Regions from separate parts of the Homo sapiens genome. Here region 1 is linked to region 2. Evidence: fine-mapped expression QTL. A gene starts in region 2. The other region holds a variant in brackets. All regions are shown on one strand. Distances are between the middles of the regions. Region 1 has its middle 33 kb from the start of ZFP36L2. Region 2 holds the start of LINC01819 (long intergenic non-protein coding RNA 1819).

What was found.
Region 1: its variant is fine-mapped to the expression of LINC01819 in whole blood (TOPMed, PIP 0.97).

What each region holds. Positions count from the first base shown.
Region 1 is chr2:43,187,116-43,199,534 of GRCh38, reverse strand. No RefSeq gene overlaps it. Among named protein-coding and RNA genes, the nearest start is that of ZFP36L2, 33 kb to the left of the region's middle. RefSeq lists enhancers at 4,606-5,525, 11,258-11,991, 11,992-12,419, a cis regulatory region at 8,482-9,080 and a silencer at 12,072-12,242. The variant AGTGT/T (reference allele first, on the strand shown) is at 6,432.
Region 2 is chr2:43,033,547-43,045,965 of GRCh38, reverse strand. It overlaps LINC01819 (long intergenic non-protein coding RNA 1819), which reads left to right and starts at 6,423. Exons shown (of 6, transcript NR_110585.1): 1 at 6,423-6,846; 2 at 9,201-9,270; 3 at 10,814-10,911. RefSeq lists enhancers at 2,137-3,078, 3,722-4,016, 3,079-4,020, 4,021-4,963.

The DNA of each region.
Region 1 (12,419 bases), 150 kb before region 2:
CCATGTCCCCTGGCAGTTCTGTGCCCATTTTCTCTGGTGACATATGGCCTGGGCCCGTGATGTCAAAGGGTCTCTGCTTCTTTTCCTTGGACTGTAGGGCTGGCCATCCCACGCCAGACCTTCTCCCTGGTCCATGAGGGTTTGGAGGGGAGGTAGGGCTGAGGAACGGTTGATGGGAGGAGAAGAAGGCAGGGCTGATACATAATTTGTGGAGTCCAGTCTAAAATGGAAAGTCAGGGCCCCGTGGTGGCTCACACCTGTAATCCCAGCACTTTGGGAGGCCAAGGCAGGCGGATCGCTTGAGGTCAGGAGTTCAAGACCAGCTTGGCCAACATGGTGAAAACCCATCTCTACCAAAAATACAAAAATTAGCCAGGCATGGTGGCATACACCTATAGTCCCAGCTACTTGGGAGACTGAGGCACGAGAATTGCTTGAACCCGGGAGGCTGAGGTTGCAGTGAGCCAATACCGCGCCACTGCACTCCAGCCTGGGCAAGGGATCGAGACTCTGTCTCAAAAAAAAAAAAAAAAAAAAAGGAAAAGAAAAGAAAAAAAGAAAGTCAGGGCCCCTTGCCCTTGCTCAAAATTTTTAAATTCCAGGATGACATTAACAGAGCATTAAACCAACCATGGGGCTGCATAGGTCACTGTTCATGAAGCCAGCCCTGCAGGAGAGGGCAGGTGTTCCAGAATCAGGGCCCTTGGTGGGGAAAGGAAAGGAGGTTGGAGCAAGGACCCAAGGTCCCTGCTGGACCCCCAGAAAACAAGGGAAGTGAGGCTGATGAGGCTGGATGGCACCAGATGCAGAGGGTCCTGAACACTCAAACTTGACCCTGATCCTAGAGGTAGACACTGAAGATTCCTGAGCCACAGGGAAGTGGGCCAGGGAGGCTGGGTCAGGGCAGCAGAGACATTAGACCTGGGAGGGCCTTCGAAACTCATCTGCTTGCCCTTTCCTGAAGAGGAGACTGAGGCCCAGAGAGGGACCAAGACCCGCCCAAGGTCACCCGGCAAAGGGTGCAGAGCTGGGCCAGAGCCCTGGCTGCCTAGAATCTTGTCTCAGGTTGTGCGGCGAATTAAGTTGAGAGCTGATGTGCAGGGTAGGAGGGCAGCTGGTGCTGGGCCTCTGGTGTCTGTGTTCACCTAAGGAGTAGGACCCACCCTCCCAGCACCTCTGAGCCGGCACTTTCCTTTCCTGGGTGCTCTTCTCCTCTGGCCCTGCCTCAGGGTTTCCTGTGTCCCTCTCACTTGGGGTCCATCCTCTTGCTTCTCTGCTGCCTTCCATACTTGGCCCAGGAGCGGAGCCTCACTAGGCATCTGGACTTTTGGAAAATTCCTGCCCCACCCCCTACCCCACTGCCAGCCTGGCCTTCAGGGGCACTGAGTGGGGGACCCTGTGACAAGAAGATAGCCAAAGGCCGGACGCGGTGACTCCCGCCTGTAATCCCAGCACTTTGGGAGGCTGAGGCGGGTGGATCACCTGAGGTCAGGAGTTCGAGACCAGCCTGACCAACATAATGAAACCCCATCTCTACTAAAAATACAAAAAATTAGCTGGGCATGATGGCGGGCGCCTGTAATCCCAGCTACTTGGGAGGCTGAAGCAGGATAATCACTTGAACCCAGGAGGCGGAGGTTGCAGTGAGCTGAGATGGTGCCATTCCACTCCAGCCTGGGCAACAACGGTGAAAGTTCATCTCAAAAAAAAAAAAAAAGAAGGCAGCCAAGGCCCACAAGGTTCCTCCAGGCCCCAGCTACCCTATTTCCTCTAGCCTGCCCCTGTAATGTAACCAGATGACCTGTCGCCTCCCTATTCTCCCTGCATTCCAGGGCCCACCTAACGCATCTGGAGGCCTCACGGAGGCCTTGGGGCCCCCTGAGGACCACAAATCCGTTACTTCTCAGTGCCCTTAGGGACATGGAGAATGGTCCAAAAACAGTCTATGCAAATACATGCAAAAGAGATGTAAATAGAAATGTGAGCATCCCCAGTTAAAGCCAATTTCGGCTTTAAGTGTTGCTTCCCTCCTCTCTGCTTTGCCTGAGTCATCAAAATTTGTGAGTTTGTGTGAATGAGTGAGAGTGCGTGTGGGAGAGAAAGAGAGACAGACAGAAACACAGGGCAAAAGACAGCGTGGCAGGCTGGGCGGGAAACCTGGCTCAAAGTGTGTGTGCTGTGCTGGGATATGGGAACACTGCTTATGGCTGAGAAGCTCGTATTATATGTTTCCCGGACTCCCCACTATCCCCTGACAAACCCTGGGCTCACTGTCAAGGATGGGGGAGCTGGACTGTGGGGAGCAGTGGTCCAGGGAGGAGGTGAGGGGCAAAGGGGAGCAGGTTGAGGTTCTCAAGGATGTACTGGGGGTTCAGCTCTGAGTCTAAGACAAGGGGCTGGGGCCCCAGAGGAAACCTCTGAGCCCCTGAGGTATGGGTCTGGAAGCCCCATCAGTGCCAGTCAGAGGCCATCCCCTTCCTTAGTGTTGCTGCTGCCCTGAGGAACTCGTGTGGGAGCCACTGGGCCAGCGAGGCTCTTGACCTTCGGGGGCCTTTCTTTCCTCATCTGTAGACACAAGCGCTGGTGTGAGGAAACCGCAGTGCAATGCTGATTCTACACCATCCTGCACTGGTAAGATGATTTGTAACATGCAGGAAGAAGGAAAATGGCAGGTCCTTCTAGACGTCTCTGCAAAAAACTTAGTAAAACATCTTAAAGGAATGAGCCCCATTTTAGGAGGGAGAGAGAAATCCCCATCTAGAGCCAGTGGGTCTCCACGTGGAGTCTCCTTGGGTCATATCCTCGGTTCTGAGGAGATCAGGGGCACCCTTACTTGGAAGAGCTAAAGTCATCTCTCCCACATAATGGAGGCCATAAGCGGTTGTTAAGTGTTCAGGTATCAATACAGGTGAGAGAAAGTTGAAAGGAGAAAGGGGCCAGGCGCAGTGGCACACGCCTGTAATCCCAGCACTTTGGGAGGCTGAGGAGGGAGGATCGCTTGAACCCAAGAGTTTGAGACCAGCCTGGGCAATATAATGAGATCCCCAAGTCTACAAAAATAATTTTTTTTTTTTTTTTTGAGATGGAGTCTGGCTCTATTGCCCAGGCTGGAGTGCAGTGGTGTGATCTCGGCTCACTGCAAGCACCGCCTCCTGGGTTCACGCCATTCTCCTGCCTCAGCCTCCAGAGTAGCTGGGACTACAGGCGCCCGCCACCACGCCCCGCTAATTTTTTGTATTTTTAGTAGAGACAGGGTTTCACCACATTAGCCAGGATGGTCTCGATCTCCTGACCTCGTGATCCACCCACCTCGGCCTCCCAAAGTGCTGAGATTTAAAAAAATTTTTTTAAATTAGTCAGGCATGGTGGTGCACACCTGTGGTCCCAGCTATTTCGGAGGCTGAGGCAGGAAGACCACTTGAGCCCAGGAGGTCAAGGCTGCAGTGAGTTATGATCGCACCACTGCACTCCAGCCTGGGTGACAAAGCAAAACCATGTCTTAAAAAAACAAACAAAAAGGCCGGGCGCGGTGCCTCACACCGGTAATCCCAGCACTTTGGAAGCCTGAGGAGGGTGGATCACTTGAGTGAAGTCAGGAGTTTGAGACCAGTCTGGCCAACATGGTGAAACCCCGTCTCTACTAAAAATACAAAAATTAGCCAGGAGTGGTGGTGTGTGCCTGTAATCCCAGCTACACGGGAGGCTGAGGCAGGAGAACGGCTTGAACCCAGGAGGAGAATGGCTTGAACCCGAGAGGCAGAGGGTGACAGAGTGAGACTCCATCTCGAAAGAGAGAAAGAAAGAAAGAAAGAAAGAAAGAAGGAAGGAAGGAAGGAAGGAAGGAAGGAAGGAAGGAAGGAAGGAAGGAAGGAAGGAAAGAAAGAAAGAAAGAAAGAAAGAAAGAAAGAAAGAAAGAAAGAAAGAAAGAAAGAAAGAAAGAAAGAAAGAAAAGCAAGCAAGCCACACATGGTTGGGAACTGTGGCTGAAAAGAAGCTGAGCTTGGGGCCTAGACAGCTGTGGCAAGAACGGTGTTAGGTCCTTTTCAGTTTTGTATGGCTTTTGCACCAGGCAGGCCAGCTTCTGCCATTTCCTGTCTGTTTGAGCGTGGCCAAGTCCTTTAATTTCACCCAGCCTCAGTTTCGCCATCTGTAAAATGGGGATGACATTGCCTGTCACTAGGCCTGCAGTGTCAATGCAGTTCACTGACATGCAGAGAGAGCAGTGCAGGCCCAGGCTACGGTGGGGCTTACGTACCATAGTAACTTACCCACACAGTCATCTGGGGCTTCCCCACAAACAGGAATGAGAGCATATCAATAGAGTTATTATTTGAATAAATAATTCCATTTTTCTATATTTATAGAAAAAGACGCAGGTGAACCCTGTGTCATACTGCCTGTGGTTCCTGCTGTGGGGAGGGTGACCATGGCTTCACCCAGGGGCAGGCCCTAGGCTTAGGTGAGATAGAGCAGTCCCCGCCCCCAGCGCTCGGAGGCTGTGCACTTAAACTTCAAAGGACCTTCCAACAGATGCAGCTGGTTTCCTGCAGCCGTGCAGCAGCCAATGCCAGCCTGAATCACCCCGGCCTAAGGGAAGCTGGGGAGCAGAGGCCCGCAGAGACCTTAGCCCAGGTTAATATGAGAGGCTTCCTGGAGGCAGAACACACCCAGATTCTAACTGCTAGAAGAAAGAAGAGAATGGCGTGTTGGGGAGTTGCTGTAGCCCAGGGTGTTGGGGCCTGGGATGTGTAGATTCAGAGGGGTCTTTAGGAGGAACGACTTGGGAGATAAGAGCGATAAGAGCACTGATAAACGAGGTCACAGGTAGGAATGTAACCTGCGGACTCTCCAAGCCCCAGGAGTAGCTGGGTTCAGGCAGGTCCTCTCCTCCAGAAGGCCCACCAGGAGTGCCTACAGTGGTGTAGCTTGCAGCTTCCAAGCTACAGGAAGAGTCCTTGGGTCTGTGCTGTGGGTATGAGAGAGTGAGATGGGGTGGACACGGGCCAGGGCCAGGGCCAGGGCAGGATGGGGGCATGGGGAAGTGGTATCCCTAAGCAAGGGGCTTAGAGGCCCTGTGTGGGGCTGGCCCACGGCAGGTGGGAGGGATTTTTAGGTAGGCTCAGGTGCAGATGGAGACATTACGCCGTGGCCCCACAGGTGGTTAATATTTAATCTCCTCCTTAATCATTAACTCCCTGGCTGGCTGGGGAGGAACAGGGCTGTTGTCAAATCAGTAACCACAGGCCCAGGAACAATGTCCACAGATCTCATGGCCTCTCCCATTGCTGGCCGAGTGGGGTAACCCCTGGCCCTGGGGGCCAGGTGCATCTCCCTCCCACGGTGACCTTGGGCCATGGAGAGGGCTTGAAGAGGCCAATCCTCTCCGAGCCCCTGGATCGCCCTTTACCCTCCACCCTCTACTTACTGGTGGGGAGTGGTGGGAGGTGGTGTCCATTCACGCATGAGGGTTCTAGTCCCTACCCACTCCTTCCAGGCTGTGTGACCTTGGGCAACTCACGTAGCCTCCCTGAACCTCAGTTTCCTCATCTGTGCAATGAGGATAATTATTCGTGTCTTGGAGGATTGTCATGAGATTTGAATGAGAGGAGGGTATACAAGGAAGTACTTTCTAAGCTGACGATTGAGTTAGCAAACAAGTTAGAGAAAGTACAGATGGGAAGAGACAGAGAGCAAAGGGTAAAGAGGAAAGAAAACAGCTTGAGAGCTCTTGTTTCCATCCACCCAAATGCAGTTCCTTTCCTTGGAGTTTGTTTTAATTCATTCAAGGAGTGTTGATTGATAAGGCTGTGTCTCCCTAAGTGGGGCTTTAGGGGTAATTTAAAAAGGAGTCAACCTCACCCTCAGGGAGCAAGAGTGACCAGGCTCCAGGGCTGAACCCAGCAGTGTCTGGGATGAAGGTCAGCAGGTCAGTGGGATGGGCTGGAGGGTCAGAGCAGGCCTTAAGGCTGAAGCAGGGCGGGGAGAGGATCCTGAGGGATGATTAGGAGTTGCGTGTGGAGGTGTAGGGAGGACTGTGCGTGCAAGCTTGCACCTAGGGATGTTTGTGTCCTTGAATTCAAGCACATAAGCAGACTATCTGAACACAGCCTGTCGCGAGGGTACACATGAATCACCCACAAACTCAGAGTAGTCAGCCACCCACCCACAAACACACACACACAGATGCACACGGTCACCCCAGGGGCGTGTGGACACACCAGCACCTTGGGATGGCAAGGCCCTCCTCTTCCAGCCCCAGCCCTGAGGCTTTCTGGATAACTTAGCATATGTGTCCCCCAGTTTGTGTGCTTTCTGGGCCTGGCTGACACCCATCACAGGACTGAACACTTCTGGCGTTCCAAAGTCTTCAGGTACATCAAGAAGCCACGGTATCCTCTCAAAGCCACCAGGTCTCCAGCTGGGACCCAGTG[AGTGT/T]GGATGTGAGGGAGCTGTAGGCAGAGAGCTTGGAGCTGGTATGGAGCCCTGGACACATCGCTGCCTGGGACAGGAGACAGGGCAGCTGGACATTGCAAACCCTCCCTGACCACTCCCCAGCCTGTGGGAGCAGGTGGAGGCTGGCCTGGGGGCAGCAGCTGGCGCTTCTTGGAGGAGGTGGGCATGGAGCTGGCCTTTAGAATGGAAGGATTTGAGGGGCAGAGATAGGTCGCAGGGAGCTACTGGAGCCCCCAGGAGCCAAGCCCCCAGCCCTCCTCTGGGTGGTTCACTCACATGCCACACTTGGGCTGGGCCCAGCCTGCCAGAACCAAAAAGAAGCCAAGCAGTGACTTTTTTTTTCTTTTCTTTTTTTTTTGTGAGACAGAGTCTCACTCTGTTGCCCAGGCTGGAGTGCAGTGGCTCAATCTCAGCTTACTGCAACCTCTGCCTCTCAGGTTCAAGCGATTCTCCTGCCTTAGACTCCCAAGTAGGAGTAGCTGAGACTACAGATGCATGCCACCATGTCCAGCTAATTTTTGTATTTTCAGTAGAGATGGGGTTTCACCATATTGGCCAGGCTGGTCTTGAACTCCTGACCTTGTGAGCCGCCTGCCTTGGCCTCCAAAAGTGCTGGGATTACAGGGGTGAGCCACCTTGCTCAGCCCAGGCAGTGACTTTTGAGAAACTGGGCTGAGTGGTAATAAAAACAAAATTCTGTCCTTCCCCGTGCTGCCTCCTACAGGGGACTCTGAGGACTGGAGGTCTGGGGGAGGGGTCCAGCTCTGAGCTTTCTAAGCAAATACTAAGACTTCTCCTACAGGAAGCCAGTCCTGACCCATGGTCCCTGCCCCAAGGAGTTGCTAATCCAGTGGATGCCATGGATCCAAACTGCCAGAGCCTGAATCCTGCCTTGATCTGTTTCTGGCTGTGTGACCTTGGGTCTGTTACCCGACCTCTCTGTGCCTCTGTTTTTTAATCTAGAACCTGGAGGTGATAATAGTGGAGTGAATTTGCTGCTTGTGGTTGCTGTGAGGGTTAGATGAGACCCAGGGCTCAGCACAGTGCCTGGCATATAGTAAGTGCTACAGCCATTTGAAGGAGAATGTGTTTTTGACTGCCATCTTTAGGGAAGCTTCCTGGAGGAGGAGACATATAAGCAGGCCCCTGAAGGACCAGCAGGATCCCCAGAGATCCAGAGGGAGGGAAGGTACCACTTCCCTGCGGAGGGGCCAGGGCGAGTGTGGGCAGGAAAGAACGTGGCATAGTTGGGGTCACCAGGAGCCTGTGAGGCCACAGCCCCTGCTTGGAGGACGGAAGTGAGGGTGATGATCAGGGTGGGGAGTGGTCAGGGAGGGTTTGCAATGTCCAGCTGTCCTGGAGAGGGGAACGCTTGGAGGCTTGTGAGGGGAGCCCCAGGATTGCTCAGGCTGAGCTTGGCAGCAAAGAGCAGGCCCTGTTGGAGGAAGAAACCCAGGCAGAAGGCTGTCGGGAGACAAGAGCCCTGCAGGAAGGAGGCACGAGGGCTCTGGGCTCAGGCGGTGCTGGGAGGCTGGCCGGAGACTGTGGAAGGGGCAGTGCACAGGCCTCATCTGCAGGCTGGCCTCTCCAGCTGGACTCATTCAGAAAACATCCTCCACAAAGCCCCATCAGAGAGCCCTGGGACATGCTGAGGCCCCGTCCAGCCCCGACTTCCTATGGGTCTGGCCCAGTGACCTTGGGCAGGTCACTTACCCAGCCTCCATTTTTTCTTTTTTTTCTTTTCTTTTTTTTTTTTTTTTTTTGAGACAGTCTTGCTTTGTCGCCCAGGCTGGAGTGCAGTGGCGCGATCTCCGCTCACCGCAAGCTCTGCCTCCCAGGTTCACAGCATTCTCCTGCCTCAGCCTCCTGAGTAGCTGGGACTACAGGCGCCCACCACCACGCCCAGCTAATTTTTTTTTTTTTTTTTTGTATTTTTAGTAGAAATGGGGTTTCACCGTGTTAGCCAGGATGGTCTCGATCTCCTGACCTCATGATCTGCCCGTCTCAGCCTCCCAACCTGCTGGGATTACAGGCGTGAGCCACGGTGCCCGGCCCCCAGCCTCCATTTTTTCATCTGCCAAGTGGGCACAGGAATTCCTGCCCACTGTCCTTGCCCATGGGGTTGGAGAGGCGGTCTGATCTTGGGATGTAGAAGTCCCAAGAGGAGTCTCTGCTGCTTTCCACCCAAGGGCCAGGCAGGGAGGTTCAGGGCTGGGGAAGAGCCAGGCTACAGCTTTGCCTCTCTCCTCCTGGGCTGGCCCCTCAGCTTATCTGGGTCAGGGCAGAAGCTGGGGTGGGCGCGGAGGAGATACTCCTTCAGCGGCCTGATAGTGTGAGGGGATGATAAAGGGCCCAAGCCCAGCAGCCAGCTTAGGGAGAGGTGGTGCGACCAGTGAGGCTGGGCTGGAGGGTGGCATTGCTCCAGGCTGGCACTGCCCTGCCCCTCATCCAGCCCCACTGCATCCCTGAAGGGCAGTTGGGTACTGCCCAGCCTTACACCACCCCATGGGCAGGAGAAGGGAGAGGCCTCTGAAGGTTGATGGTGGCCTTTGGACACTGTTTCAGGGAACTGATGGAGGCAGAGGCCAGCCTCTCGGGTAACAGAAGGGTGACCGACTTGCCCTGGGTTGCCTGGGGCTTTCCCAGTTTCAGAGTGGAAAGCCTGTCCTGGGAAACCCTTCAGTCCTGAGCAATTCAGAATGGTTTGCTGAGGCCAGCCATTCAGTTTTTGGTTTTTTGTTTGTTTGTTTGTTTGTTTTTTGTTTTTTTCTTGAGACAGAGTCTTGCACCCAGGCTGGAGTGCAGTGGCGTGATCTCAGCTCACTGCAACCTCCACCTCCCAGGTTCAAACGATTCTCCTGCCTCAGCCTCCCCAGTAGCTGGTATTACAGGCACATGCCTCCAAGCCTGGCTAATTTTTGTATTTTTAGTACAGACAGGGTTTCACTATGTTGACCAGGCTGGTCTCGAACTCCTGACCTCAAGTGATGCACCCGCCTCGGCCTCCCAAAGTGCTCCCACAGGCGTGAGCCACCACGCCTGGCTGCCTTTGTTTCTTATCTACAACAAAGAGGTGATAGTAGAGTACATTTGCTGCTTCTGGTTGCTGTGGGGGTTAGATGAGACCCAGGGCTCAGTGCGGTGCCTAGCACATAGTAAGTTCTACAGCCATTTGAAAGATAATGTGGTTTTTTGTTTGTTTTTTAATTTTTTTTTTTTTTTTTTTTGAGATAGAGTCTTGCCCTGTCGCCCAGGGTGGAGTGCAGCGGCTCGATCTCGGTTCACTGCAACCTCCACCTCCTGGGTTCCAGCGATTCTCTTGCCTCAGCCTCCCAAGTAGCTGGGACTACAGGTGCATGCCACCACACCTGCCTACTTTTTTTTTTTTTTTTGAGACAGAGTCTCTCTCTGTTGACCAGGCTGGAGTGCAATGGCAAGGTATCGGCTCACTGCAACCTCCACCTCCCAGGTTCAAGTGATTCTCCTGCCCCAGCCTCCTGAGTAGCTGGGATTACAGGCGCCCACCACCACGTCCAGCTAATTTTTGTATTTTTAGTAGAGGCAGGGTTTCACCATGTTGGCCAGGCTGGTCTCGAACTCCTGACCTCAGGTGATCCACCCACCTCAGCCTCCCAAAGCGTTGTGATTATAGGTGTGAACCACCGCACGGCCGAGAATGTGTTCTTGACTGGCATGTTCAGGGAAGCTTCCTGGAGGAGGAGACGTATAAGCAGGCCCTTGAAGGACCAGCAGAGTCCACAGAGATCCAGAGGAAGGGAAGGTACCACTTCCCTGAAGAGGGGCCAGGGCGAGTGTGGGCAGGAAGGAACACAGCATGGCTGGGGTCACCAGGAGCTTGTGAGGCCACAGCCCTTCCTGGAGGATGGAAGTGAGGGTGATGATTGGGGTGGGGAGTGGTCAGGGAGGGTTTGCAATGTCCAGCTGCCATGGAGGGGGGAACGCTTGGAGGCTTGTGAGGGGAGCCCCAGCATCGCTCAGGCTGAGCTTGGCAGCAAAGAGCAGGCCCTGTTGGAGGGAGAAACCCAGGCAGAAGGCCGTCAGGAGACAGGAGCCTCACGTGAGGGAGGCACCGCGGCTGGGGGCTCAGTGCTTGATGACAGGTTCAGAATAGGCTGCTGGGACTGGACAGGAAAGCTGTCAGGAGGGCAGAGGGATACCTGGGGACACCTCGCCCCAGGGCATTCAGAAGGGAGTCCCTCTGCAGCCTGTTCTTCCAGCCTACGCCCCCTTGCCCCCTGCCTTGGGCTTGCTTTCCTCCAGCACTTACACTGTAAAAAATCATGGCCTTGGATCGGCGCAGTGGCTCAGGCCTGTAATCCCAGCACTTTGGGAGGCCAAGGTGGGCGGATCACAAGGTCAGGAGCTCAAGGTCAACCAACCTGGTCAACATGGCGAAACCCTGTCTCTACTAAAAATACAAAAATTGTCCAGGTGTGGTGGTGCCTGCCTGCAATCCCAGCTACTCGGGAGGCTGAGGCCGGAGAATTGCTTGAACCTGGGAGGCGGGAGGTTACAGTGAGCCAAGATCATGCCATTGCACTCCAGCCTGGGCAACGAGAGCAAGACTCCATCTCAAAAAAAAAAAAAAAAAGGTGGGGGGGCTTTCCTTACCTTGATGCTGACACAGGAGGTGAAAATCCTAAAGACCCTTGGCCCTGGCACCCCATCTAGGATGGGCACGGACGGGGAGATGAGAGCAAGATTCATGCAGGAAACAGAGCACCCCAGGGGAGAAGGCTCTGAGTTTTGTTTGGGTGATGGGCCTGAGGGGATGAGACAGGCAAGTTGCATCCAAAGCAGCTCCTAAGGTTCAGACAAAAGAATGTATAATATCTGAGAGGGAAGGTGGGCTCTGGGGAAATGTATGAATCAGATGCCAGCTGGGCGCAGTGGCTAACACCTGCAATCCCGATACTTTGGGTGGATCACTTGAGCCCGGGAGTTGGAGACCAGCCTGGGCAACATGGTGAAACCCTGTCACTACACACAAAAAAACAAAAATTAGCCAGGTGTGGTGCGTGCCTGTAGTCCTAGCTACTCAGGAGGCTGAGGAAGAAGAATGGCTTGAGCCCAGGAAGTGGAGGCTGCAATGAGCCGTGTTTGCAGCACTGCGCTTCAGCGTGGGTGACAGAGCGAGACCCTGTCTCAAGGAAAAAAAGAATTAGATGCCCCCAGAGTGGCTATTCTAGACTGGATGGGCCGTCTACCCCACCTCCCTCCCAGGAGCCCAGAGTTGGTGGTGTGGACAAAGTCTGTTAGTAAAGCTGGATGTGGTCCTGTTGTTAACATCAGGGTTGGCAAATGGGCCCAGTTAAGCTGGTCACATTCTAACTGTAGGCGCTGTTGCTTCCAGAAAGTCCTTCCTGGCCCTCTGTGGCCCACCCCCACCACGGCTCCTTCCACCTCACATCACGCCCCGTCACTTTCACCTACTTACACCTCCACTATCCCCTCCTCCCTGGAGGTGTCCCTGTCTGGTCACCTCTGAATCTCCAACACCTTCCAGGTAGTGTGCTCAGAAGATTGCACACTTCCAGGCATCTCCCACCACACATGCCTGAAGATTCATGTGTGGTGGGAGATGGGGTGCCCAGCAGTGACCACGAAGTTCCAGACAGGTGGGGGTCCTGGGGAAGGGCTGGTAACCTGGAGCTCAAGGAGGGGCCCAAAGGCCAGTCGAGGTGTTCTGAGGGGAGAGAGTGCTGCAAGGGGTCCCCAATTTCTGAGGCTGTTTGTGTCTCTAACCCAGCCTTCCCTCCCTCTTGTGCCAGACTCAGCCAAGAGAACAAACTGTGTGAGCAGATGGTGCTGCTGTCCAGGCTGAGACAGAATCCCTACAGACAGGCTGGCCAAAGGGTCCGGCCCTGGACCTCCTAGGTGTGGCTGAGGCTGGGGAGGGGAGAGGCTGAGGGCCGGGCCACCAGTCTGGGAGAGGCTGCGGGGAG
Region 2 (12,419 bases):
AAAACTGAAAGTAGAATAAAGGCCCTGCTGGTTGAGTTGGGGTGGGTGAGGGTGGGATGAAGACACAGAGCCCAGCTGATTAATTTCCCCGTTTTTCTTTATGCCCCTCGAGGCACCTTGGCTGGAGCAAAGATAGAAAACCACCCCAAAAGCTTGATTGTAGCTTTCCCCAAAATGTATTTCTAGAAAATCTGTTTTATGACTATGTGTCCCATGAAAAAAGGGTTCTGGCTAGGTCTGGTGGCTCACACCTGTAATCCCAGCACTTTGGGAGGCTGAGGCAGGTGGATCACTTAATGTCAGGAGTTCGAGACCAGCCTGGCCAACATGGCGAAACCCCATCTCTCCAAAAAAAAAAAAAAAAAAAAAAAAAAAAAAAAAATATATATATATATATATATATATATATATATATATATAAATTAGCCAAGTGTGATGGCACATGCTTGTAATCCCAGCTACTCAGGAGGCTGAGTTTGGAGAATCACTGGAGCCTGGGAAGCAAAGTTTGCAATGAGCTGAGATTTTGCCACTGCACTCCAGCCTGGGCAACAGAGCGAGACCCTGTCTCAAAGGAAAAAGAAAGTTGGGGGCGGGGGTGGGTTCTGTGGTCAAATTAGTTTGAGAAACACTGGATTAACCAAAGTGAGTTGGGTCTCTTCAGGATTTCTTAGAGACTTGAATATTTACATTGTGTACTGGGAGTCTTAGGGTGGTTGGTGTGTAGGGTCCTGTGAACCTACCTGTTTTATTGAGGGCCATCCCTGTAGGATGGTGCTAGGCAGAACACACTAGGGAAATGTTTTTTACTGGAGAATAGTAATAATAATTTTCGGGAGGCCAAGGCAGGAGGATTGCTTGAAGCCAGGAGTTCCAGACCAGCCTGGGCAACAAAGCAATATTTTGCCTCTACAAATTTTTTTTTTTTTTAATTAGCCAGATGTGGTGGTGTGTGCCTCTAGTTCCAGCTACTCAAGGAGGCTGAGGCAAGAGGATCACCTGAGCCCAAGAGTTGGAGGCTACAGTGAGCCATGATCCTACCACTGCATTCCAGCCTGGGTGACAGAACAAAACCCTGTCTCAAAAAAAAAGAGAAAGAAAAAACATTGCCCTCTGTCTTTCCCTCAAGACCTATCTATACTAGCCCAAAATACACATGTCACGGGTTACGTGCACACACACGATGCACACATGTCCTGCACACATTCACACTATACCTACCTACTAAAATGAGGGTAGAGGGGAGGCAGTATATACTGTGGAATGAATATAAGCTTTAGTCTTCCCTGACGCTAGAGTTAAATAAGTCCTGTGGGAAGCCCAGGCATTTCCAGGCCTCTTTCCTCCTGTCTCTGTCCTGCAAACACAAACACGGCCTGGCCCAGCATGGATAAGGTGAGTCCTGGGTCCACCGGCCAGTTATTCCTGACATATCCCCGTCCCAGGGCTGAGCTGACCCTTTGGCCCAGACAGGAGGCCCCAAGCTCGGGCTGGGCCGTGAGAGCTCCGGGAAACCTGGTTCCCACTTGGCCTGTGAGGCTGCCCTGGCCTCTCTTTCCTCTTCTTACCGATGGGAAGAATTTCTGGAAATGCGCTGGGCCAGTGACAATGAGGCAGGATGCCCTCCCCGCTCCCCAGACCAGCCTGGCTGAGAGACCCACCACCCCTCAGGGGCTGGGGCCCACAGAGGTAACCTGGCTAACCCCCTCCTGCCCTGTCACAAAGGGGAGGGCGGGCCAGCCCCTGCTCAGGCTCCCAGAGCCAGCTGGGAAGGAGGGCAAGCCCCTGGGCCATTTCCCAGAGGCCACATCCGTGCTGGGCCTGTCTGGCCTCCGGTGGCCCAGTCTTTCCCTCTTTCTTTTTTGCACTGGGACAGACAGCGGGGGGGAAGGACCCCCCACCCCCCAACACACACCAGGTGCTGGGATGCACCAGTGACCAAGGCAGCTCTGTCTCTGGGGCTCAGGATGAGGTCAGGGGGGGTCCCACATGTAACCTGGGAATGTCGATATAATGTTTTGAGGGCTTTGACAGACACTAGAGCCTCAAAAGCTCCAGTCTGGGAATGAGGAGGCCTTCCTGGGGACGCCCATTTATGAAGAAGCTTCCCTGGCTTCTGGGCCTAGAATCCACGAGGAAACCTTGCTTTCAAGGAGTTTCTGCTCCGTGTCCTCCTCCTCTCCACCTCTTTCTCTGCTTTCATTTCGTCGGACTGGCTGCGCCCCTACCTTTCTCTCTGAATCCATCACACCCCTCCCTGACTCCTGCCAGGCCATGGCAGAATTGCTGTTCCCAGGAAGGGTAGGTAAACGCTGGAGACGCAGCAGACCTTTCCCCACAGTACCCTGGCTTGGTGTCCACCCCTCTGCCATGGATGGCAGGAGGGACAGCCCCCCTACCCTGGCCGTACCTTTGCTCAGCCAGCTTCCCTTCTCGGTGACTCCATTACTGAGGCCACAGCCCATCACCCAGCCATCCTTCCTGGGGGAGGTTGGCCAGGAATTTTTGTACATTTATAAGTTTGTATTGTCTGAGGGGAAGCAGCCAAAAAAGAAAAGTTTTATCAGAGAATTGGACTTGGCTTTCCCTCAAAAGCCAATGGGGTTTCTGAGGAACGGATTTGAGGGGACACTAAGGCCTGGGGGGCAGGAAGGGCCTGGGAGTTCTGTGTCTCCCTTTAACTGGGGGCTCCCTGAGGAAGGGGCTGTGTTCCCACCTCAGAATGGGGGCTCTTTGAGGCCACAGCCATGTCCCTCAGTCTGAGCTGCTTGAGAGTCGGAGCCCTGCCTCTGCCCCGACTGGAGTGTGATGATCAGATGCCCCGCCCCACCCCTCAGGTCGAAGCAGGCACTGGGATCCCAAGGTGGTCCAAGGATGTTGCAGGGACCAGTGTTCCTTGGCCAAGGTTCTTTTAGTCCAAGATTCATCTCCCCGCCCCCAAACGCTCTCCTTTGCTCCCAGGTCTCCCAGAGTCTCTTGGGCCTTTGCTTTGGAGACTTCCTGCAAATTCCACAGCCTGGCCCCGGCCCCGGCCCTCTGGCCTGATCAGCCCAGGTTCTCCGGTCCGGCCACTCCTCTAGACCTTATTCTGTTTTTGTTTTTTGTTTGTTTGTTTGTTTTGTTTTGTTTTTAGACAGAGTCTTGCTGTGTCACCCAGGCTGGAGTGCAGTGGCACAATCTCGGCTCACTGCAACCTCCGCTTCCCCGGTTCAAGCAATTCTCCTGCCTCAGCCTCCCAAGCAGCTGGGATTACAAGCGTGTGCCACCACGCCCGGCTAATTTTTGTATTTTTAGAAGAGACAGGGTTTTGCCATGTAGGCCAGGCTGGTCTCGAACTCCTGACCTCAGGTGATCCACCTGCCTCGGCCTCCCAAAGTGCTGGGATTACAAGCATGAGCCACCGCGACTGGCCTAGCCCTGCTTATTCTCAAATTTCCTCCCCATCCCCCTACACACCGGTTGGTTTCTACCTCTAGCCTTTTCTTATGCCATCCCCTGGGCCTGAAGCACGCTTTCCATTTCTGCACTTAGCAGTTTTTATCATCGTTTCTGGCCCAAAACAAAGTCCTCCACCTCCCAGCAGCCTGCCCTGACTGCCCTACCCCATGCCAGCCTCACCTCTCTCCTCCCTCCCCGGAGTTCCCCTCAGAGCCATGCACCCATCACTTTATGGGGTCTGACACTTCCATGCTCAGTCCCATGCAACACACAAGCTGCTGGAGGAGGGGCAGGGGCAGAATGATGGATGAGGCTGCAGCGGCTTTGCTCCCTGCCGGGGCTGTGGTTAGATCTCCCCTCCAAGAAGCCTGATATTTTCCAGGAATTTCCTGAGGGGAGGGGGCCAAGTACTCTGGAATGAAAGCCAGCTGTGGGGTTGAGGCCTGAGGGTGGGGAAGGGGGCTCTGGGCTTCCTGGCTGAGTCAGCGGACCATTCCTAGGTAATTTATGGGCTGAGTCAGAGCTGTGGCAGTGGGGCGAGGGGTGGGGTTGGGAGAGCTCCCTGGTCTCTAGGCAGTCTGTGGAGGGGAGGGCAAGAGGACTGGCTGGAAGTAAGTCTGGCTGAGTCCAACACAGACCCCCTCTCCCCATCAGCCTCCCCACTGCTTGGAGCCTGTAAAAGCAGCAGCCAAGAGACGGAACCGTGGGGGATGGATGCAAGCTGGCAAAAGGGGAGAAGCCCCTGGCAGGCACTGGGGGCTCCTGAAGACAGAGGGGCACGCTGGCAGGGAGGGGCTTGGGCCAGCCTCAGGGCTAATTTGAGGGTAAAGAGAACTGCTAATTCCAGCACCTCAGCCTGGGTGCCCCCTCCCGCCCTTTTGTAGCAGGCCTGGCCTGGGCTGAAAAGCAGATCTGGGTTCTAATCTCCCTTCTGCATGGACCTGCGGGTGACACAAGCTTGGTGCCTTCTCCTCTCTGAACTTCAAGTCCTTACTTGGACAAGATGGCCTGGCTCCTCCCAGCCCTGGATTTGGGGATGCTCCGATGCTGCCTGGGAGCCCAGTCTGATCATGGTGGCCTGGAAATCAAGGCTAAGCGAAAGGAAAGCCTGAAAGAGCTGCACTCTAAGCACCACAGCAGGACTTGCCCCTGAATGGAGATGGGGCTGGGGCAGGAAGGTGGCAGGGAGGGGCTGGGCCCTGTGACTGTCACCTCCAGGTTGGAGGAGTGGGGAGGGAAAGGCAGGGCAGGGTGCGTTATCACACACACACTCACCCACATACACTCAAGCACACACCACAGAGTCCAAGGAAAACCTGTTTCTGTCCTAGCACTGAGCCAGGGATCCCACACAAAGATGGGTCCTGGCCAAGCGCAGTGGTTCACGCCTGTAATCCCAGCACTTTGGGAGGCCAAGGTGGGAGGACAACTTGAAGTCAGGAGTTTGAGACCAGCCTGGCCGACATGGTGAAACCTTGTCTCTACTAAAAATACAAAAATTAGCCAGGCATGGCAGTGCATGCCTGTAATCCCAGCTACTCAGGAGGCTGAGTCAAAAGAATCGCTTGAACCCAGGAGGCGGACGTTGCAGTAAGCCAAGATTGAGCCACTGCACTCCAGCCTGGGTGACAGAGTGAGACTCCGTCTCACAAAAAAAAAAAAAAAAAAAGAAAAGAAAAAGAGAAAGAATGGGTCCTGATGAAGTTCCTAGGAGGCTCCCTCCTGCTGACAGAGCACAGCAGGAGTGTCCCCCTGGGCGATGGGGCCCAGCTTTCCCATGTCATTCATGGGCATCTGTTGCATCATGATATCTGTTGCAGAATCATCCCATAGTGGCTTCCAAGCAGGGCGTTGCAGCTGAGACTGGCCCTGGTCTCAGCATCTTCGGAGAGGCCCCAGATTGATAAGTGTCTTGTTCTGAGTCATGGCTCAAAGTCCCCATGACAGACAGGAATCCCTATCAGCATGGTAGATTTCATAAACCCCAAATTAGGGCATGAGATCTGAAAAAGAATCTGGGGGATTTGTGATAACATGTGAGGGCATACAAATAAGGACTCTTACTTGCTCAAGACTAACAAACTGCATGTCTTGACAAGAGTAGCCAAGATGAAATCAAATGTAGACAGGAGGGTTCTGAACACACGTGGGGTCACTGGTGTGGCTTGGCCCGGGACTACCCCTCTCCCCCTCATCACCCAAATCCACCAGAGCCTTCTAGAGGAAGCATTCTCCCCACTGGTGGCGTGGTGGGGCCAGGGCCTCGACAGGGACTGTTGTAATCATCCAGGTGGGAAATGACAGAGAGGTGGTGAGAGGCGGGTGGGCTCTGGAAGAAGTTGGAATCCTGCTGACAAGATGCTCCAGTGGTTTGGACATGGGTCTGAAAAACTCCAGGACGGCTATCCAAGGTTTCGGCCTCAGTGAATGAAGGGATGGGGTTGCCACTGACTGAGGAAGAGAATGTATTCTATTGCATATTTAATTAATTACTTTGATGTGAAAAGTCCAAATAACAACTATGTCTGGAACTGAGCAGGGCATCCGTGGGACCACCGCCCACAGGCACCCAGGGCTTATGGCACCACCCACCCCCGTCGTGGGAGGCCCCAGAGACCCCGGCAGAGAAAGAGGGAGGCTCACCCTCTTGCTGTGGTGTGTGTGGGAGGGGCAGTGTGAAAAGGTCTGGCCCACCTGAGTCCCCTGGGCTGGTAGGAGAACTGGGGCCGGGCAGGGGGTGGTGTTGGAACAGGAGGGGTGGTGTGTGAGCCTCTGTGGGCAAAGACCCACCGTGGCCCACAGAGGCTCTTTCTCCTCAGACCCGGTGTGCTGTTACCAGAGCCTTCTAGAGGAAGTGTTCTCCGAGCTGAGGGCGGCTCTTTGATTCTCCAGGCCACAAACCCCCGCAGCCCGGCCTGGCCAGAGGCGTGCCTGTGCATCCCGGCAAGTGAGCGCCCAGGGACTCTCGGCCAGAGAGGCTGTGAGGGTGGCTTTGTGAGGATGGCTTTGTGTGGCTGCACATTGCCCTTGGCCAAGCCCCGCTGCCAGGAGAGGCAGCTCGGCTGCCAAACCTCCTGAACCCAAGTTACCTGAGCAAGCAGCCCTATCCCCTCGCCTGCTTCTCACTGCCTCGCCTGCCTTGGGCCTGCCCGACCCAGGGGGTCACATGCCTTGTTCCCCATCAGTGGAGACCAGGGACAAGAAGACAGTTCTGTGGGAAGAGCCAGGAGGACCATTTGGGAAAATACAGGTTCCAGGTGTGTCTCCAGACCTTGAGAGTTGGTGTCTCCTGGGAAGAGGCCCTGATGAGATCTGGGGAGATTCGGATCTGATGAGATTCAGGAAGCCCTGGCCTCTCCGTACTTGAGGAGACGGGACACACAGGACAAGCTGCAGGCTGGTGAGCAGGTATGTTCTGCTTCTTTGAGGACAAGAGAACCCTGGATCCTTGAGGGCTCTCAAGGGGCATTTACAGGGTCTGAGCCTAAATCGAGGCATCAGGTCCCAGAGAGGGCGAGGGTGCGTGTGCTCAGACAACCCGAGGTCCCGCAGAGGCCACCAGAGCCCCCAAGGGGGGTCGGAGAGAGTCCACTTCCCGCCAGAGGTGCGATGTGGCCACATCACTGGGCACCTAGTCCTTCTTTCTGCCAGCCTCAGCCATATGATGAGCAACCAACGCCTAAAGCTTCCTGAGCTGGAGGCGGGGAGGCAGGACTGGGGAGATTGGAGCTGGAGTGGAGTGGGCCTGAGCTGGGGACGGTGGGGTTCCTGTGACCCCGCAGGGTGAATGCCTGAGCTGGTTGCTCTGGATATGTGACCTGCTCCTCCCTTCTGTAAACTCTTCACCCTGATCTGGAGAAGGTGATCCCCAAGGGCTAGGACCCACCCACCCAGAAATACACTAAATAAGTAAATGTGCTCTGTTCAGATTTTATCTAATCAGGATTCCAGAGCACAAGACAAATGGCCTCACGTCCGGCTGGGAGGTGTAATTCATTCTCCTGGGTGAGTCCAAAGCCTGGGGCAGAGTGGGGAGAGGAGGGGCGGGGTGATTTAGTGTAGTGGAACGTGCACTAAGGGTCTGGGAGGCCCTGAAGCTTGGAGTGCAGGGCCCAGCGCCAAGACCTCCAGAACAACCCAGCCTTCCTCGGGATCTGCCCAGGGATGGAAACGAACCCTAGTGTCCTTTCTTTCAGGGAGTCTATTTCTGGGACTTATTCCAGGGAATATACATAGGTGGTCATTCAAAGATTTAGCCACAAAGTTGTCCTTCACTGTGACTTCTAAGCCTGAAAAACCGGAAGCAACCTAAATGTCCAAAAATGGGGCATGGGTTAAATACATTGTGAAACATCCAGAAAACAAAACACAATTGAGCCTTTAAAAATGATGTAGAAGAGCATCTAATGACATAGAAATAAGCAGATAGCATAACGAACAGAATAATACAAAGCTGAGATGTATATAAAATAATCTGATTTTTAAATCATTGATTGGGCTGGGCGCAGTGGCTCATGCCTGTAATCCCAGTACTTTCGGAGGCCGAGGCAGGCAGATCACCTGAGGTAGGGAATTCGAGACCAGCCTGACCAATATGGAGAAACCTCATCTCTACTGAAAAATACAAAATTAGCCAGGCGTGGTGGCACATGCCTGTAATCCCAGCTACTCAGGAGGCTAAGGCAGGATAGTTGCTTGAACCCGGGAGGCGGAGGTTGCAGTGAGCCGAGATTGCACCATTGCACTCCAGCCTGGGCAATAGTGAAACTCCGTCTCAAAAAAATAAATAAATAAATAATAAAGCATTGATTTATGAAAAACGTTGGAAGGATATACAATAAAACATTGACGAGTGGTGAGCTAAGGGGTAATTTTAGATTGCTTCTTTTTCTTTGTTTTTATTTTGGTTTTCCTTATTTGAATTTTTAATTTTTTTAGCATAATCATGCACTTACACAATAGACAAATATAAGGAGAGCTATTACTTTACAAACCAGAATCTCCGAGATTTAGCTCAGGAAGAATTCCTGGGTAGGAGAGACAGCTGGCTCAGTCAGCCCTCACTCCACCTCCCTCTGTGCACTCTCCTCTTTGGGTCACTTTTCTTCATTCCCACGGCTTCTTTCTGGCTGGGCCCCAGGGATGCCACCACTTTTTTAATTCTGTGGGCCAAACATAGCTAGAAACCCAGCCTTGGTGGTTGTTTGAGACCGAGTCTCACTCTGTCACCCAGGCTGGAGTACAGTGGCGTGATCTCGGCTCACTGCAATCTCCACCTCCCAGGTTCAAACAATTCTTATGCTTCAGCCTCCTGAGTAGCTGGGATTACAGGTATGTGCCACGACACCAGGCTAATTTTTTGTATTTTTACTGGGTTGGCCAGGCTGGTCTTGAACTCCTGGCTTCAAGTGACCTGCCCATCTTGGCTTCCCAAAGTGCTGGGATTACAGGCGCGAGCCACCACACCTGGCCGAAACCCAGTCTTTCGCTTCTTTTAACAAGCACAGCTAAGAAACCTGGGAAGATCAGACCAGATGGCACTAATAAGGGCACTGAAGGGAAGGCAACAGGACGTAAACATGGTGCCCAGAAGAACTGTAAACCCAATCCAGCTTCCCAAGGCAGGGGTGTCCTAGTCCTACCTTAACCAGTTACCCTCTGGAGGCTCCCAACTCCTGTCCATCCTATGTGGAGGTTTATGAGGGGACAGAGACCCCACCAAGTCCTTTGTCCCATCATAATTTTTATCACCTTCTTTTCAGGTTCACCTTCTATTTTGAAGACCCGCTTCTTCCTCAGGTACCTGATCTTGAAAACGACCTCCCCTTTCAGGTAGGACCCACCATGACATATGGAGAGTGATCTAGCCCTTGGTCCAGGCTCCTGATAAAAAATATTCCAGCGCACCCCCAAGCCACAGCACTCATTTCAGAGAACTGGCACCTCACACACATAAAAGGCCTCTCAGGACCCAAGAAGCTCCCAGGCTCCAAGAGCAGATACATTGGCTTGGCAGCCCCAAGCTTTCCTTCACACCACTCCACCTGCCTCAGTGAAAAACAGACAAGTAATCAATGAATTATTTCCCCATTAAAATAAACTAATAGCATTAAAAACTGTAATCTAAATATAGGCTAATTGTAAAAAATATGGAAAATCTGAAAAAGTATAAGAAATAAAATGAAAATACTCCATAATAATCACACTAAATGGAGATAACCATTATTGCTATACACATACACATTTAAATGAAACTGAGGTAATACCATGTGCATACACACATAGTATATATAAAATCCTGATCTTTTTCCATATCAATTACATCATAAGAATTTTCTTGGGTCATTAAAATATTCTTTGAAAATACGATGTAAAATGGCTGCATAGTATCCTATTGTACGGTACAGTGGTTACTAAGCCAATTTCCTAGTGTTAGGCATGTGAACTGTTTCAAAATTGTTCATTATTTTAAATAATAATTTAATAAACATTCTTACACATACATCTTTGCATACATCTCTGATTATTTCTTTCTCTCTTTTTTTTTGGGCGGGGGGGATGGAGTTTCGCTCTTGTTGCCCAGGCTGGAGTGCAATGGCATGATCTCGGCTCACCACAACCTCTGCCTCCTGGGTTCAAGTGATTCTCCTGCCTCAGCCTCTCGAGTAGCTGGGATTACAGGCATGTGCCACCACACCCAGCTAATTTTGTATTTTTGGTAGAGACGGGGTTTCTCCATGTTGGTCAGGGTGGTCTTGAACTCCCGACCTCAGGTGATCTGCCCGCCTCAGCCTCCCAAAGTGCTGGGATTACAGGCGTGAGCCACCGTGCCCAGCCTCTGATTATTTCTTTAGGATAAAGTCCTAGAAGTGGGATTATGAAGTAAAAGGATGTGAATCCCTGCAAAGTTCTTGGTGTCTGGGAGCAATGTGTTTTTGATAAATTGTGTTACCGTAGTCCCCTCTTATCTTCAGGGGACATGGCCCAAGCCCCGCAGTGGGTGTCTGAAATTGTAGTTAGTATTGAACCCTGTATACACTATGTTTTTTCCTATACATACATACCTATGATAAAGTTTAATTTATAAATTAGGCACAGTAAAAGATTAACAACAATAATAAAATAGATCAATTATAACAATATGCTGCAAGAAAAGTAATGTGAGTATGGTCTTTCTCCATGTGTCTCAAAATGTTATATTGTAGATCCTAGCTACCTGAGCTAAGATCTGAGATCTAAAATCTTGATTTTTTTTTCCATATAAATTATATCATAAGAATTTTCCTGGGTCATTAAAATAGTCTTTGAAAATACAATTTTATTTGATTTATTTATGTATATTTTTTGAGACAGGGTCTCTCACTTTGTCACCCAGGCCGGCGTGCAGCAGGGCAATCGTGGTTCACTGCAACCTCGACCTCCCAGGGTCAAGTGATCCTCCAGCCTCAGCCCCACAAGTAGCTGGGACCACAGGTGTGCACCACCGTGCATGGCTAATTTTTGTGTTTTCTGTAGAGACGGGGGTTTCTCCCTGTAGCCCATGCTGGTCTTGAACTCCTGAGTTCCAGCGATCTGCCCACCTTGACCTCCCAAATTGCTGGGATTGCAGGTGTGAGCCACAATGCCCAGCCTGAAAATACAATTTTTAATGGCTGCATAGTATCTCATTGTTTGGCACAATATACACTTTTTTTCTTTCCTTATTAAGTCAAGAACTTCCACCTTTTAATTTAAAGGAAGCACTTCACGGCTTCTCTTTGGCACATCCAAATTTCCAGCATTGCTACTCTTGTGCTTTGGGGCCATTACAAGGTAAAACAAGGGTTACTTGAACACAAGCACCATGATACCTTGACAGATGGCCCCTAAGGGACACGCAGGTGGGTGGCAGCCACAGCATGGATACGCTGGAGAGAGGAATGATTCATGTCCCAGGTGGGACATCAGGGGATGGCCTGTTGGAGTAGGAGTCAGGAGGCCAGTGTGGCCAGAATGGAAACTTGACATCTATTCTTATGATTCTTTAAGGGAAGTGAACCCCACTGTGACAGCCTGGCCTAGGCCAGAAGGCAGCAGAATGGCAGAGGGCAGCTTCCACAGCTCCAACACCTGCTCAGGTGTTTATGGCAGTGAGGAGGGAGAGCATGTCCCAGAGCTGGGTTCCACTGTGCCGGGTGCTGAGAGTCCAGGGCTGACTAGGTCATGACTCTGCTTCTAAGTTGATTTTATAAATTCGGCACAGTAAGAGATGAACAACAACAATAATAAAATAGATCAATTATAACAATATGCTGCAATGAAAGTTATGTGAGCATAGTTTTTCTCTCTATGTCTCAAAATATTGTAGATCCTAGCTTCTAAGTTCAATTTATAAATTAGGCACACAATCCCATGGGGTCGACGGATGGACACTGTTAACAAGCATATGGCATGACAGATAGGGGAGGCTTCCTGGAGGAGGTGACATTTGAGTGGGGCATTGAGGGATGAACAGGTGAATTGGATTTCAACAGGCAGGGAATATATTAATACCTGTTTGCTGAGAAGAGCATAAGGGACCCATCGTTATTAGGGTGTGGACCCATGGCCTTGATCTGGGATTATCACTGGGAAGTAGAGAAAGCAGAGAGTGAGAAGAGGGTTCAGAAGAGGACCCTGGGCCACATGGCCATGTTGAAGGTGGGGTAAGAGGTGGGGCTGGAAAGTGCTGGAAGGGGGCTAAGGAGGAGCATCAAGGCATGAGGAACACCAGTGGAGTGGGCTGTCACAAGATTTAAGAACGACCAACGGAGAAAATATCACATATTGATGGGAGGCCAAGAGAGACAGGCTCTAAGGAGGGCCCAGGGCCGGCAAGCATTTGGTCCCGGGAGACCCTGGCAGGGGCCGGGCTGGTAAAGTGGACAGGATAGAGGTCGGGGGCATTTGATTCCTGCGGCTGTCATGGTAACAAACCACTTCAAACTGAGGGGCTTAAACAA